Linked DNA regions of Homo sapiens: all the other regions are reported to be linked to region 1. Evidence: microRNA targets listed by miRTarBase, many of them from high-throughput screens and not tested one by one. Region 1 holds a microRNA gene; each other region holds the end of a gene's coding sequence.
The links. Region 1 holds the annotated microRNA hsa-miR-8076 (UAUAUGGACUUUUCUGAUACAAUG, at 2,807-2,830, shown strand). A microRNA usually pairs through its seed, bases 2 to 8, with sites in the 3' UTR of a target mRNA and lowers its output. Matches are read on the target gene's strand: a 7mer-m8 pairs with bases 2 to 8, a 7mer-A1 pairs with bases 2 to 7 and ends in A, and an 8mer does both.

Region 2: the mRNA of CRADD is a reported target of hsa-miR-8076. Seed matches in the 3' UTR shown: 8mer at 729-736 and 8mer at 745-752.
Region 3: miRTarBase lists PCDH7 as a target of hsa-miR-8076. Seed matches in the 3' UTR shown: 8mer at 1,005-1,012.
Region 4: miRTarBase lists POPDC1 as a target of hsa-miR-8076. Seed matches in the 3' UTR shown: 8mer at 1,174-1,181, 7mer-m8 at 1,570-1,576, 7mer-A1 at 3,480-3,486 and 8mer at 3,720-3,727.

The regions. Positions count from the first base shown.
Region 1 is chr3:113,430,890-113,434,957 of GRCh38, reverse strand. It overlaps MIR8076 (microRNA 8076), which reads left to right and starts at 2,758; the gene lies at 2,758-2,840. It overlaps CFAP44 (cilia and flagella associated protein 44), which reads left to right. Exons shown (of 35, transcript NM_001164496.2): 2 at 1,289-1,393. The coding sequence starts at 1,294. SPICE1-CFAP44 (SPICE1-CFAP44 readthrough (NMD candidate)) reads left to right here. Exons shown (of 52, transcript NR_183050.1): 21 at 1,289-1,393. It overlaps CFAP44-AS1 (CFAP44 antisense RNA 1), which reads right to left. Exons shown (of 6, transcript NR_046728.1): 5 at 1,287-1,375; 6 at 966-1,166.
Region 2 is chr12:93,849,852-93,853,919 of GRCh38, forward strand. CRADD (CARD and death domain containing adaptor protein) reads left to right here. Exons shown (of 3, transcript NM_003805.5): 3 at 119-905. The coding sequence ends at 420. Among named protein-coding and RNA genes, the nearest start is that of CRADD-AS1, 110 kb to the left of the region's middle.
Region 3 is chr4:31,142,377-31,146,444 of GRCh38, reverse strand. PCDH7 (protocadherin 7) reads right to left here. Exons shown (of 3, transcript NM_001173523.2): 3 at 1-3,972. The coding sequence ends at 3,596. Among named protein-coding and RNA genes, the nearest start is that of LINC02497, 27 kb to the left of the region's middle.
Region 4 is chr6:105,097,726-105,101,793 of GRCh38, reverse strand. POPDC1 (popeye domain cAMP effector 1) reads left to right here. Exons shown (of 8, transcript NM_001199563.2): 8 at 581-4,068. The coding sequence ends at 705. Among named protein-coding and RNA genes, the nearest start is that of POPDC1, 37 kb to the left of the region's middle.

The DNA of each region.
Region 1 (4,068 bases):
TGCCCACTTGAAGGGAGACAGTCATCATACTACACTCTCCTTTGTCCTTTGATCGTGTAGTGTACCATATCTGCTTTAGGCATACCAGTCTATCTTCAGAGACCAGGAAGATATAACAGTGTGGCAGTTTAAGTAACCCTCATAGCAGGCTTGTAAAAAGTTTTTTCTTCATTCCCATTACAGTTGGGGAATTCATATAAAGTTTAGTTAGCTAGTTATATGTCAGTACTGGGATTCAAACCCTAATCTAACTATAAATCTGATCCAAATAGAACTAGTGTTCCATTCTGCTTGCCAGGCATATCGTAGAAGAATGTTGAGGAAACATAGGGTGTTTAGTATAGAGAAGTGAAGACTTAGAAGGAAGGTGTTTTCAAATATATGAAAAGCTGCATTATAGACAGAGGGCAGAGAAAACCTGTTGTGTCGCTCCCCTCTTTAAAACCCTTTAATGGTTTTCAGTTGTCAAGGAAATAAGGTATAAACTTCTTAGCAAAGCTTAGAGACAACTTTATGATATGGTACCCACCTTCTCTTCAATATCCATTTTACTCTCCCACTCTGGCCAATAGACTGCTTGCAGCCCTTTAAAGATGCAGCCCTCTTTGATGTGCCTAATGTATCTTTCACATTCTTTGCCTGGCCAACTCCTGACCATCATCCATGTCTCAAACACCTCTTCTCTAACCCCCCATCATGTTTTAGGCTTCTTGCTATACATGCCCACAGTACCATTTTCCTTTTTGTAGCACTCATTATTTTTAATTGCTTGTTTAATATCTATCTTTATAAACAAGCTCCATAAAGTTAGGGACCATATTTCTCTTCTCCAGGTTTGTAATTTAGTACCCAACATAAGACTTGATACACTGCAGGTGTGCTCAAAAAATATTTTAAAAACTGAAATTGATTAGTAACTCCAAGGGAATTTGAAAATAGAGAAAGAGGGAGGGATGGACCAAAGGTAGGATGGCAGAAAGTTAATTTTAATGGTGAAGCATCTGGGGAAAAGATGAACTTTGGTAGTGGACCTCTGGAAAACCAAAGTGCACCACAATGACAATTTACCTAGAGAAAGAGAATCTGTGATTATAATTAGCTGTCTTGCAGAGGTCAGAGGTCTCTGGTGGTAGTTGCACCCTCCTACTGGTGGGTCATCCTGGATCCTGTGCAAACAAGGATTATTGACACACATGGTGTTTGGTGCTAATGAAATATGTTAGGGGGAAATCTGTTAGTTTCAATTTTACAGCTTTATCCATATCTCATCCCCATTTTGTACTTACAGAGGAAATGAAGGAACCAGATGATCAGGATACTGATGGGGAGAAATCAGTTACATCAAAGAGTGATGGGAAGAAGTCTCTGAGGTCTTCTAAATCAGAATCAAGATGTAAGTAAAGATAATATGTATACTTTTAAAAGTATTAAACTTAGGTAAACATTTAAATAATTAATTTTTATAGTAGAATGGAAAGAGCAGGATGTTATAAAATAGATCTTTTTTTTTTTTTTTTTTTTTTTTTTTGAGATGGAGTTTTGCTCTTGTTGCCCAGGCTATAGTGCAATGGTACGATCTTGGCTTACTATAACCTCCGTCTTCTGGGTTCAAGTGATTCTCCTGCCTCAGCCTCCTGAGTAGCTGGGATTACAGGTGCCTGCTACCACACCCAGCCAATTTTTGTATTTTTAGTAGAGATGGGGTTTCATCATATTGGTCAGGCTGGTCTCGAACTCCTGACCTCAGGTGATCCACCTGCCTCTGCCTCCCAAAGTGCTGGGATTACAGGCATGAGCCACCATGCTGGGCCAAAATAGATCTTATACTCCCTGTTCCCAGAAAGCTGTAGGAAGGTGGGCTCCATAAAAATGATGGAGTTAGCAAAGAAAAAGGACTACATATGGTCCAGGAAATAGGAGATTCAAAATAGAAATAAGGTAAAGGTAATGCCTAGGATGACACTTGGGCAGCCATGCAGAGAACAATTATACTGAAGCAAGGAAAGGAGAATTTTCACCTCCAAGAAAGTTAAAAATGTTAAATAATAGATTATCTGATAGATGCATGTAGAAAATTGAACTGAGTGGAATTTATAGAACTATGACAAGATGTGGGAATATTTATCAGGAGATTCCAGAAAGTTAAAAAGTGAAAATAAATGAGGTATTAGTTTTAGAAAAGCGAGTTGTTCAAGAAGGAAATAAAATAATACATTCTTAACTCAGGAATGAGTGTTATTAAGGCAGTATACTAAAAATAGTAAGCATGGACTTCACTATAGTTTTTTTGTGCTTTGATTATATTGCAAGGGCGGAGAGATAGCAAGTGGTGATAGAGATTTAACATTCTTCATCTTCCCATAATAAACACTGTCTAAAAGTAGCTAGAGAGAGCAGTATATCCATATTGTTTAGATATATGGAGGTAAATATCAGAAGAAAAAAGATTAAAAGCTAAAAGTGATTCTTCTGGAGAGATAGAGAAGGCTGTTAAGCAGGGAAAAGTTGAGTATTTTAAAAGACAAGTCTTTTAGCATTACTTGACTTTTTAAGTTATGGGCATGTACTTCAACAAAACTAAAAATAATTTTCTAAAAGTCAAAAAAATGGGCAAAATAATTTTTAAATAGTGCATATCTGGGTTTATAGAACAGAAATGGTTTACTTGTTCAACTCCCTTACAAAGCTCTAAGTTCCTTAAGAGCTGTCTGTGTTTTACTTATTTATCACAGCTCCTGGCACACAAGTTGATAATAACCTATCCACACGTCTGGTCTAGAGTTCTCCTGTGAGAGCTACTAAGTCTTATATGGACTTTTCTGATACAATGTAGTGGAAAGAGACCTGGACTTTGGTTTTGAGTCCTGGATCTACCATTTAGAGATGCTTGATCTTGGAAACATTACCACATCTTTCTGAGCCTCAATTTTCTCACCCATTAAAACAATTATGAGTCATTTGGGAATTAAATTGCATAACATGTGGAAGGACTTCATAGGCTGCAATGGAAGAAAAAAGGAGGAATTTTATAACTAGGATTTTTGAAAGATGGCTGGCTCTTTCTGACTGACTATCACGATGTTAGGTATCTTAGTGGAATCTTGACTATTTAAGGTTCTAATCCTAAATATGATTTGAGAAATTTAATTTTGACTGTTCACCTAGAGAAGATCAGGTCCTGGGAAAATCAATACACATGCAAAATTTGCATTAAATTCTTTTAATCTATCGCAGACATGTCTTGTAAATCCACAGTTTCTCCACATTATATTTTATTTTAGGCATTTGTCTTCTCTGGTTTAGACTCTTGCAACATGGATTTCTACCTCAGTCTTCCTGTCCAGATCTCCCTCCACACCACCACTAGAGTTCTTTCCAAAAAGTATCATTATATCGCTTACTTCAGAAACTTTAGTTTGTTCCCCCCTAGTTTTTCCTTTTTCATGTTTCTGTACTCCCTACATTTCTGACACAGGATTGTCTGTGTGTTGGTTTCCAGTCCTCGGCAGTGTTTTCCTGGATGCTACTCTCAACTTTCCCTTGATGGATTTAATGATAATGACCCTTTGTCTAGCATTGCCTTCAGGACCTGCCTTCCTTATGTCAGATGCTGTTAGGCGCAGACCTTTTCAAGTGTGACCTGGCCCAGTGCTCAGCTCATTAATTAGTTCACATATCATATGTCTTAGACTCCCAAATGATAATGTGAAATAATTTTCTGGCATTCTGAACATCCTGTACCTTGTTGCTGCGTGAAGAGGTCTCTTCCTCCTGGCTCAGCCTCATACCTGATCATAGCTGCATTCCCCCCACCCCTGAAAACCTTGCTTTGCTCTCAGGCTTGTTAGCACATCCAGCAAGTTTTTACTCTGGGATTCTCATGTAGAATGAATAAAAGTCCTTGTATTCCACCCAAGCAGAGAAGTTGGAGTAGACTTTTTCCCATACTTAACAAGAGGTTTCTGCTATCTCTGAGTTCTATTAAGAAATTTAGGTCGAGTGTACCAGCTAAACCATCCATCATTTCTCACGATGGTGAAGGACTGTTAGTTACTAAGGCATTGATTT
Region 2 (4,068 bases), not on the chromosome of region 1:
CCAATTGGCTCTGCCATTTGGAAGCATTGCCTTCTTCTCCCCACGATTCTCATTTCTGCCCCCAAATGATGTGTTTGTTGCCTTGCTCATTTCACCGGGGTGTCTTTTTCCTCCTCAGGTGACAGATTGACTGGGATCCCCTCGCACATCCTCAACAGCTCCCCATCAGACCGGCAGATTAACCAGCTGGCCCAGAGGCTGGGCCCTGAGTGGGAGCCCATGGTGCTGTCTCTGGGACTGTCCCAGACGGATATCTACCGCTGTAAGGCCAACCACCCCCACAACGTGCAGTCGCAGGTGGTGGAGGCCTTCATCCGTTGGCGGCAGCGCTTCGGGAAGCAGGCCACCTTCCAGAGCCTGCACAACGGGCTGCGGGCTGTGGAGGTGGACCCCTCGCTGCTCCTGCACATGTTGGAGTGATGGTGCCTCCAGCAACCGCTGGGGAGTGTGTCCCTGAGTCATGTGGGCTGAATCCTGACTTTCACTCAGAGCAGGTGGTTTTTTGTGTAGGTTTGTTTTTTATTTTTGATGATCTTCAGATGGAAGGAGAAAACAGGGTTTCCACTAGACATTACTTGAAAGGCCAGATTACTCAGCAGATCTCCCATGTTGGCTCAACAATTCTTTGTTTTTAATTGCTTGAAGATTGCATTGTTGTAATTGTTCAGTTTTTAAATGTGTAATGGCATTTTAATAGACTAGTAAATCACAGTGGTTCAAAATATATATCCATATATATATATATCCATATATATATCTCATGTCATCACATTACAGGCAGGTGTCTCATATGTAAAACATTTACCTGAATGTTGTCTGAGGACTGAACTGTGGACTTTACTATTCATAATGATAAAATAATAAAATGCGAATTACTATATATAATGTGCCTCACTCATGAGAAAGTACCGTGTTGGGTTTTTTTTTTTCTTTCTCATTCCTGTGTTGCATAGATTAAGGGTGTAAAATTACAATAGTCTTTTTTTTCTTTTTGGAACAGAATTAATAGTAACAGTGAAATGGTTACTTTCCCAAGTCAGGATAAATAGCTCAGGCAGGATGTCTGTATTAAATATTGTAAGACACTAAAGCTCCCTGCAAAGACCAGTTCAAGGACCAGCATGCATACCCGAGCCCTTCATCTTTAAAAGATCGCTCGAGAAAATCCTGTGCTGTTTATTGAAAGCATTAAGTCAGGGGACGAGAGGGGGTGTGGTCTTTCCATTGAAGCCAGAATGACTGAAGTGTTGTGCTCCTAAGGAGTATGATTTAGTCTTCTGTCCTTTTATCAATAGCACATGGTGTTTATAGAATGCTTTACTGTTTTCACGGCTTTTCCTGTATGTGATCTCATTTGGACCTCTCAGCAATGCTGTGGGGCAGTGGGCAAGGTGGTTCACCTCCTTCTGTACAGAGATTGAGTGATTGGCCCAGGGTGAATGAGGTTGGGTGCCGGCTCCTGAGCCTTTCCAACTGCTCCACAGGGCTCCTCCCCTTCTCTCTTGCATGCTCATTGAAGAAGCTTGAATCCTGCTCCCCGCCTACTAGGTGTATGGCCTTGGACAAGTTACTTACCCTCTCTACACCTCAGTTTCCTCATTGGCAGAATGGGGAAATGATTGTACTCACCTCTGAGGTCTTTGTGATGATTAAAGCAATAATGTCCGCCAACAGCACATCCAGATGCAGCTCATTGTCAGCTTTCAGGAAATGGTAGCTGTTAATTTGCCGCCACTGTGGCTGAAGGTATGGTTAGACCACAGGCAAAGCTGAATAGTGGCTGAAAGCTGAGGGCACTGTGGGAGGAGCTACTATTGCCACATTTCTTACTAAGCTTTAAAATGGGATTTGATTTTATAAACTTTACAATGGGGCCAGTCTGTGATCTATCCTTCTTAATAATTACGGAATCTGTTTCCTAATTCTAACATAACTCAGGATTTTTCAAAAGGGAGAAAAAAATCATGTTTTTTATTTCTCTCCATTCCAAGAATAAATTTATGGAATGGTAGAATTGAGCACGAAGTGGGTACTTAAAAAGATGACAATAGTGTGTGGATAACATCCTTTCAGGCATCTTGTAACCATATTCCTGTTACTAAAAAAGAGCTGCTATGCCACAGTTTATTCTTCCAGTGAATTCGGTTCAAAAGGATAGTCTACTGGCCTTATCAGTTCAAATTTTTCATTTTGTAGCCCAGCCAATAATTCATTATCTTATAAAATTCTCATGCTTTTGGCCATATCACTGTGCCCAGTGATAGACTGTACTGCTGTGGCATCTTCAGTGAATCACTTGTCATTTTGAACCTGGGACTTATTACATTGCTGTCTTCCCCCTGGGTTTCCTAATAGAGAGTTGCTTTGGCTTTTGTTCTCACAGCTCAGAGTCACATTCATGGATGAGTGAGTAGAGCTGGGCTCTGCTGCGTCTGACTAGATGGCATTTTAGAAGCAGGTCTGATGATTAGCTGGGTCATCTTTCCGCCATTCACCATTTGCAAGGAATCTGTCACGCATAAAGACACTCGTGGGCTCTGTCAGCAGTGAGAGACAATTAGTGAAGAACAAGCCCACGATGGGCCAGACAGACAGGGCCGAGGGGGCCCTTAGAGACCTCTGACTTGTTGCCCTTCACAAGCAGAGTGTCTTCACCACCAAATGGCGGCAGCCCCTCCCTGGCCTGCTCACGTGCTTGCAGAAGATTTGCAGAGTGGAAGAACAGAGCAGCTGAATCCCTATCTTGGTACTACCTCTGGCCATGAAGAATAATGCTACATAGCAGCTGCCTACCTCCTAACAGAACTGGGGAGGTGAAGAGCCTGCAGGGATTTCCTGTGTTTGTATGGGAGAAGATTCTACAATTTCAGAGACTGTTTATCCCCAAGAAAACTGAATGAATGCAGCGAGGTGGCAAGAGCATTTGCCGGCACTGACAGAAAGTATATGAATATATAGTCTTGCACCACTTTGGGTTGGGTTGGAGTGTGTGTGTGTGTGTGTGTGTGTGTGTGCATATGCATGCATGAGTGTGGCCCTTCATGTTTTTAAAACTATAACTTTTATTAATTTTTTCAACATGAAGTACATGTTTATTATGGCAGTTTGAAAAAAAACACAATAAGATGAAGAAAAATAAGAATTACCCCTACTCCCATCTAAGCACTGTACATCCCAATTTTTATCCCTGTCCTCCAATTAGTTTTCTCTGCCTGCATATCCTTTTCATAAAAAGAATAGGATTTTCTCTGCATTTCCTTATAAAAAGTGTTATATTTTCCAACTGATAATACACTTATTTTTTTTTGTCGATGTGGGACTATTTAGAGAGACTAAACTGTGTAATTAAAATGATGCATCTTTTTAATATTCCTCAATGGCATACTCCAAATGATCTTTATATTCATGGCTTAAAATTAACTAAATTAAGTTTTCAATTTTATTACAAGAATGGGATTATATTGTACCTGCTGCTTTACAAGTGGCATCTTTTATATAACATCAAACTGTCTTTCTGTGTCATTATTTCTCTGTGCCAATGATTTCAATATCCTTTGTGTTCACAACACACTTTCGAGTCCTATAATTTTTGTGGCATGTTTGAAGAGATAAAAGGACACTTAGCTACTAAAAAGATGACAATAAGTATAGCAATGTCTTTCACTCTCAAAACCATTGTCCCACTTTTTGCTCCATCCCCGTTTGGAACCATGTTCCAAGCAGTAGAGCTGTTTACGGCTCCCCTCTATGCACTCTTATATCCTCAAAAAGCAAAGTTTAGCACAGTCTGGGCTTTATTCTGAGATTTTATCTCTTCCTAACAGCAAGATGGCCTCTACACTGCCTGATGATCCAATCAGCTTCGTGTTCCATTTCCACAAGAGTACGTGTTCTGGGAGGGCAAATGAATTTTACCTGTTGATCCAAATGTGATGGCACGCTTATGAAGGGTTGATAGTCTACGTGTTGCCACTATTCGCTGCCGTCATTTTCAATGATGCACAGCTTTCCAGTGTGTGGATGCGCCGTCATGTCTTAACCACTTCCCTGCGTGGATCTTTAGGTCGG
Region 3 (4,068 bases), not on the chromosome of region 1:
ACCTTCACCTAGGTCACAACTCACAAGATTTACTATATTCATGATCATGCTCACTTTTTATTATTTATTTATTTATTTATTTATTTATTTATTTTTGCTTAAGGACACATTTTCTTATTTCTCACTGAGAGCATATACCTAAGATTATTTAGGTCTTTAGATTTCTCATGACTGTTTTTGGATGGCTGTTTGCTTCTTGACAATTTCTTCTGGTCTGTGTGTTTTATTCTATTTTCCTACAAGACAGCTTCCTAGGGTAGTGTTTCAGTCAGACATCCTCAGTACCATCTTAGTTCCTCCTCCCATAAAAATAATGCCTCCCTTGTTTTCTGAAACTCAGGCAGCAGGCCAGTCAGAAACCATACAGAAATGATATCTGGAGATTCAGAAAGAGCAGTAGATTTTAGATTGAAGCTACAGACGTTTTAATACACATAAATTTATATAGTTACTCATTAATTTATAAATGTGTCCTAATGTATAATGCATGCAAAATTCACTTGAGAGTCTTGTGTACAGAAAACAAATATGGTTTATATACTGTACAACCAAAATGAAACCATAGCTGAAAGAAACACAACAAAAAAGAAATAAAGAATAAAACTCTAAATCAGTATTTTACCTTGCCAAATGGACTGATTTCACTCCTGATAGTATCTCTGTGTTACACTTACAATAAACGCTTTCATCTTCTAGTCAGATTTAAGCAGCCCATATTAATGCCTTAACTTTGCTTTATGACATAACAATATTTAAGACTGGTCCATTATCTGAGTTTGTCAGAAGGCAAATTTTTAATATATTATTTATTATGTTCAGAAAATAAACATGGACAAATATACAGGATCAAAAAAGTTGGGAATAGCCCATTTCCCCTCATTGTCCAAACCCAACAACCGTTTTTTTACCGTAACAACAGGTATAAAAGGCACAGTTGCTTATTTTGCATTCACTCATTTATTTTTTTTGTTTCTTTTTATTGATTTTTTTTCAAAAGCACTCTATATATGGAGTGGCACCAGATTTAACCTATTTAAAATAAAAGTCATACAAACACAAAATATATTTCTGTGTCATGCCAGCTCATTATATAATAAACATGTTATGACAGCTAATTCTACTAGAATTACTGTGAATACTTACAGTACACTGAATTTTATTCTTTCACATCCATTTTAGTTTTAAAGAGAGGTTCACGAGTTAAATGACAATGGCATGGCTATCTTGAATGGGGTGCAAACATCATTGGGGAATGTGGATCCAATTAATCCGAAGGTCCGGTGTGACCCGTATTAGTTTTATAGACAAGAGAAGGGTTTAAGATAGGGTGAAATGAGCTATCAGTGGTTTCAATGTCTCATGAAAGAAAGAAATGCATTAAAAAAAAAAAAGTTTGTCAAACATCCGTGTTATGCAATTGAGTATTTTCTTTGTAACGTGCAAGAAAAAATGTGTATACATTTCATAAGTATCTTTAGAAGTATTTTGTCTTAATAGGTACTTACAGATTATACAAGGCAGAACTGCTTTAATGCAGTTTCCTAACAAAGTACTAGAATTGCATCTTTCCATAGTGTAAATAATAATCAAACATAAACATGTTCAATTACTGATATTTTAGTCCAATGTTTTTTGTTTCAATTACATATCTTTTTGCATCCTACCTATTATACATAAACTAACATCAAAATGAAAACTCCATTTAAGAAAGAGCATAAGGAAATGACCCCCAAATTGTACCCCACCAAACAGAGAAGCGGTTTTCAAAGATAAGTATTTTGAAGACCTATAGTGAATTATCAACCTATATTCCAGGCTGTGTCACTTTATAGTCTAAGAAATTCTGCAAAGCATGAAACTACCCAAAGCTACATTGTTTCTACAGTTTGCTAGAGAGCCATCAAGGCTATGCCTTAACCAGCTTGCAAACATTCAGTGATAAGTTTGTTCTCTTCACACCTGTTATTCCCTATTCTGTCCATGGATTGTCACTTTCGTCTGAATGTCCCAGCTCAATTTTCAGCCGTGTTAGGTTATCCTCTATAGAGTGAGTAGCTCAAAATCTGCATATTCTGTTTCTTTTTATTGCACTGGAAAAACTCTGCTTTCACCTTTGAGATATACATTCTGTGAAAAATGTCACTGCCCAAAACTCCTTTCTTTCATGTTCAGTCTAGATTTGTTTAAATAATGTTCAAATCACATTAGTGATAAAGTCAACTAGGGTGTCACCTTGTTTCAATGTTGTGAGTCTCAAAATATTTCTATATTGCACACGATTCAAAATTAATGCACTTGTGGTGCATCAAAGTGTGCACTGAACAAGTAAAAAATGCAATTGTAATTTAAAATGTGGATAAAAAGAGCAGCAAGCATAGCCTGGATTCTAAAATGATAATCGTGGACTTAACTATCAAGACTATATGCCAATGCATCTTTCTTAACCTACCCATGATCCATAAATACTATTTTAAAACATGGAATCTTCCCTGATAATATTACCTGAAACTAAACTTGAACCTCAACCAATTGCCTATTATAATACCAAAAATATATCTCACTAGTTTTCATTTTCTGCGCTTTCAAATAAAATCCATTTTAAAAGAAGGAACATTTTCCTGGGCACTATAAAATGAACTAGTGTTTGATTGTTTCTGTGCATACATGGGTTCAGTTGCTTTTGTTGTTTAATGGTTTTCCACGTCAAGACCAAATCAACTTCATGACTTCCCTGATCTGCCATATGATCTTTGGCCTTTGGATGATACAATTGTTCAAGTTAGTTAATAATAGTGGTCTTGTTCTGAAAAAATATATATAATTTTTAGAAGTCATAACTGGTGAAATTGATACATGTAATCAAGACTGTGTGTATACTGAGAATATTTGGTGAATGTATGGAATTGAAGTTGATGCTCTTGACCTGAAAATAACAACATATGACAATTTAGGACTGCAATCACCCACTGAGTATTGTTTTTCTCTTAGTCTTTGTTGGAATATTAAAGCTTTGATATTCCCAAAATACTTTTTAATACAGTCCCTCTTTCTAAGGACTGTACCTTTAGAGGGACTCTATCACTTTCAAAGGATTGCCTTTGATGGTGATAAACCATTTTCTGATGGTATGTCTGAAATACATTTTATCTGTCCTGCTTATTTTTGACCAGCCAGATGACACTCGAACAAAATCAAAGTGACTAAAATCATGCTTCAGCTTAGGGATAATGAGGGTGTGTTGTGTTCTGCTAATCAGGCTTCGTACAGTTACTGTGAAAGAAACTTGCAACTATCCCCCTTTTTTTTTCTTTTCTTTTTGTTTTTTTTTTTTTGGAGAGGGGTGGGGAAGAGAAAGTGAGTGTTGGGAATCAGTGAAGGGGTTAGACATGCAAGTAACAAGGATGGTTTCTACATTGTACAGTAGAATCAGGCTAACAGTATCACTAAAGGCCTGATCTGGAGGCAGAAGTGGCAGGCAAAGCTTTGTCTCTTTGGTAGCCCCCTCTTTGTGATTAAACGTTTTGCTTTGTAAGGTTTTTGCCCCTTATTCTCCTTTTCATACATGTAAAGAACTTTGCTGTTGCTCCTTTATAGCCTACAGGTAAACTTCTCTTCTAGTGAGAGTATTGACAGGAGATGGCTTATATTCCCCTGTTTTTGTAAGGGGAATATCCTCAGGGTTGGCTTCCTCATTTTTGCTGAAACTAGCTGCACTGAAGGTCTCATAGGATGAGGTCAACTTTTTGTTCAGGAGGTTTCTGTTGCGGTCACCCATGATGGCGGCCTCCCCATTGGCCAGCTTTTCCTGGCTTCCTCGTTCATCAACAGGCATGAAAGTGGACAGTTTAGGCTGGCTCTTCTTCCTCTCCGGAGAAGTGCGGACCGGCATCCAGCAGGAGTCTGAGTGGCCATACTCATCACACTCACGAGTGCACTTCCCAGTCAGGGCTACATCTGGAAGAGGCCTTGAATCTGAAATCCAAGGAGAATAAGCCATTAGTATTTGACACTCCTCAACAGGCTCCCCTGATCTATATGAAATTAGAGGAAATATATAAATATATTCCT
Region 4 (4,068 bases), not on the chromosome of region 1:
GCCTGGGATTGCGTTTCCTCTACTTGGCTTGTCCCTCCTGAATGCCTGGCCTTTCTTCCTCTTCCCCTGTCTCCTTTGCGTGTAAGCCCAGTGGGTGGCTGGACTCCATGGTGGAGGCAAGAAATGTTTTAGGTGATATTACAGATGGTGATTAGGTTCCATAATTTTGGAATAGAAGTATTCTTTGGGGAAATTAGGAGTTAAATCAACTTTCAAGGGCTAATATGAGACTCAAGCCCCCATGTATGATATTAATGTAGGAACATGCGTTCTGAGTCCTAAGCAGACTGTGGGGCAAACCCCTGGGAACTGAATATATTTGAGAAGCTCAGATCATCCAAGCACATGCGGTGGAATCTGTCCCTCATCTGTGCTCCTGACTGAGAGTCTCTTCTTGACTTGGTTATTTTATTGAGATGCTGGATTGAAATAGAATGGTTTATGGAAATTGTGTTCTTGGTGCTGCTAGTGATAGATTCCTACAGTTTTATTTTCCAGTTGGAATTTATAATTGATATATCACACCAGGGTCTGGGTAGATTGTGCATTCAGTGGTTTTCCCTCCTGTATCTTTCCACAGATGTGTCATCCCCACACCAGCGAGCCTCTGCCAAGATGAAACCGATAGAAGAAGGAGCAGAAGATGATGATGACGTTTTTGAACCGGCATCTCCAAATACATTGAAAGTCCATCAGCTGCCTTGATCAGAGAGAGAATTCAGGTTACCAAGACGGAAGGTGTCTTGAAGAGATCCTGAAAAATACCAGCACTTTTTCATGGCTTTTAGGTTATTCTGCTTTAGTGCATCCAGACTGGTGGAGTCGGAGGGAGGAAGTGAGGAAGGGTCAAGGATGGAAGAGTTCTTTCACTTACCCTTTTTATTAGTCAGCTTTTAAAGTAATTGTTTTACTGAGCCTTCTGACTATGCCTTGTTCTCTTTTGAGATATATATTTTCACAGTCTTTTCTAGATATATTATTGTTTTAACTTAACAAATCTTAGCAATCTCTCAATGCCTTTTCACTTATTTTTTTCCAAGTTATGATTCTTTTTCCTCACAGTCTTTTTTGTTCCATAGCAATGAGGTTGTCCATTTGATAATTTTAACAAACAATGTAAGTTTAAAATTGAGGCTAAGGTAACATGAAAAAGCAGGGAATCTCAAACTTTATTCCATATATACACACACACACACACACACACACACACACATACATACATACATATATATATATATATACATATATATACATACACACATACATATAATTTTTTTTTTTTTTGAGATGGAGTTTCACTCTGTCGCCCAGGCTGGAGTGTAGTGGCACATTCTCAGCTCACTGCAAACTCCACCTCCTGGATTCACGCCACTCTCCTGCCTCAGCCTCCCGAGTAGCTGGGACTACAGGCACCTGCCACCGCGCCCAGCTAATTTTTTTGTATTTTTAGTAGAGATGGGGTTTCACTGTGTTAGCCAGGATGGTCTCGATCTCCTGACCTCGTGATCCGCCCACCTTGGCCTCCCAGAGTGCTGGGATTACAGGCGTGAGCCACCGCGCCCGGCCTATTCCATATTTTTTTAATGGGACATTTTAGAGAAAGGTGTGATTTGACTGGTTTTATTTTTCTCCCAGGCCAGAAGTATTACTCCACTAGATCACCTTACTTAATTGGGCACTGTGTGGATAACTTGATAATGAACAAAACTCTCAGATTTTACTCACATTACCCTTGTATTATGCCATTTATAAACTGCTCTGAAACCTGAAGCTGGAAAGATAACAGATGGGTTTCTGAGCACGGGGTTAACCTCCAGCTAAACTCAACTTCCTTGGGATTTGGAGTCACCATGTTGTGCACACTCTGGTGTGGGAAACACTTTATGTAGGGTGGGAGGACAGGGGAGTTAAATGGCTGGGCAGGTGCCACAGGATGAGGCCACTGAAAGATCTGCTTCATTCTTTGATCTGTATTCTGAAGTTCCAGATTGTTCATCTAGAGGCAGAGACATCTCTTTTAAAAAAGTGCCAGATGCCCCAGTGCCAGAGCTGCGAACGTGAACACAGTGGAAGGCAGAGGGTTTACTACAGGCCAGGCCATGGACACCCCACCCAGGTACTGCAGTGAGGGCCTTGATTCCAGAGCTCTTTTTCCTACTGAAATCATGGTTTAGTAAACAGTGGCATTTGGCTGGTGGGAAATGCGTAACTGGTCAGTGTGTCTGGCCAGCGTGGCTGTGGCACTTGGCCAGGACGCTCCGTTGAATGAAGCTCATTGATTGGCCATGCTGGTCATGTCTATTTTGCTTCATCCACTAGAACCAACTTTGAGTCAGTCTCCTGTTACGTTAAATGGCTAAGAAAAGTTCCAAATGAAGTTGTTCTCAGGTGAACTGAGCCAAAAGAAGCAACTCTTACCATGAGGTGATTTCTGTTAGAGGAGACATATAAATAAGCTCATCTAGGGTCACCTCATTTTCCTAAATATGTTTTTAAAGCAATTATTGTAGTAATTTCATTTGAGTTAAATTTACATGCTCGGTCACTCATTGAGAAAATTTACACAGACTCTGAATCCAGTTCCTGTCATCTTCAGATGTTGGTTTATTGACATCACAGTAAAAAGGCTACTGTCGACTGGACACAGTGGCTCACACATGTAATCACAGCACTTTGGGGGGCCAAGGTGGGTGGATTGCTTAAGCCCAGGAGTTCAAGACCAGCCTGGGCAACATGGCTAAACCCCATCTCTACAAAAAAAATTAGCTGGGTGTGGTGGTACATACCTGTAGTCCCAGCTACTCAGAAGGCTGAGGTGGGAGGTTCACTTGAACCTGGGAGGTTGAGGTTGCAGTGAGCACAGATCACACCACTGCACTCCAGCCTGGGCAACAGAGTGAGACCCTATTTCAAAAAAAGGCTGCTTTCACTGTACTGCTGCAGCAGTCTCTTCAGGTAGCTAAATTAGGAGCTTGTTTTGGAGAAATGAAGCAAAGGTGAATGACAGCCTAGGCTTGAAATTATAAAGCTCTCTCAGGTTGAACTCTCTCGTGCGCTCTCGCTCTCACTTTCGCCCTGTACCTGAGAGCACAGGTGTAACTGTGATGTCATAGTGCCGAGACTACTTTCCTTTAACCATTGGGGTTAAGTTGGGCAGCCCATTTAGTTTACACGCGCATAAGACTAATTTACAAAATCACTCTATACAGTCATTAGATGTAACATCCTTCCCTGAGTAGAAAGTAATGCATGTGTTTGGAGATTATTTTCTGTAATGCTGGGAACAAACCTGTTTTAAAAGCACACTGCTAAAAGTAGGTGATATAAGACCATTTGCTGTTTTTATTAAAGTATGTGTGTGTATCAGTGTCTCAATGTGAAGATTGTAACCTCAAGATTAGGAATCTTAAAAGAGCCACTTAGCCTGAATGGGAAACGTGAGACTATTTTTAAACACACACCTCTAAGGAAGAAGCCTCCCATATAGACTTGATCTCAAAGAAGCAGATAAGAAGACAGAAAAGTGTTTTAAGTGTAAGATCTCCTATGGAGTACTTTAAATTCATTTATACAAATGAATAAGTGTATCTTTGTATAATGCATAAATACATAGATAAAAACATGTTTGCTGCCAAAGTTCCCAATAAGATGCTTCCTGTGTTTTTTGGCCTTTACTTAGCTGAATGATCAAAGTTCAGAAAATGGTCTGCAAAAGTTACTCCATATACAACCCCAAATCTACTACTTTAAATGTAACATCAACTCAGTTGTATGAATCTGGAGTGTAATATTTATATTAGAATGTATATGTCATTTAAAATATTTTGAAAGCCCTCATAAATATTTATATTTACTAAACTAATAGCATAGACACTATATAAATCCGCAGTGATGCTTATATATCTTAAATTAGTAATAATGGGTGCTATATAATTATTTTCAGTTACTATCCCTGACACTCTGGAATCTTCTCCATTTCTCCCTATCACTCAATTTCATTTTAATCATTGGACACCTTTGCGTTTTGCTGCTAACAGTGTGTGTATGTCACCCTCTTTATATCTGGTT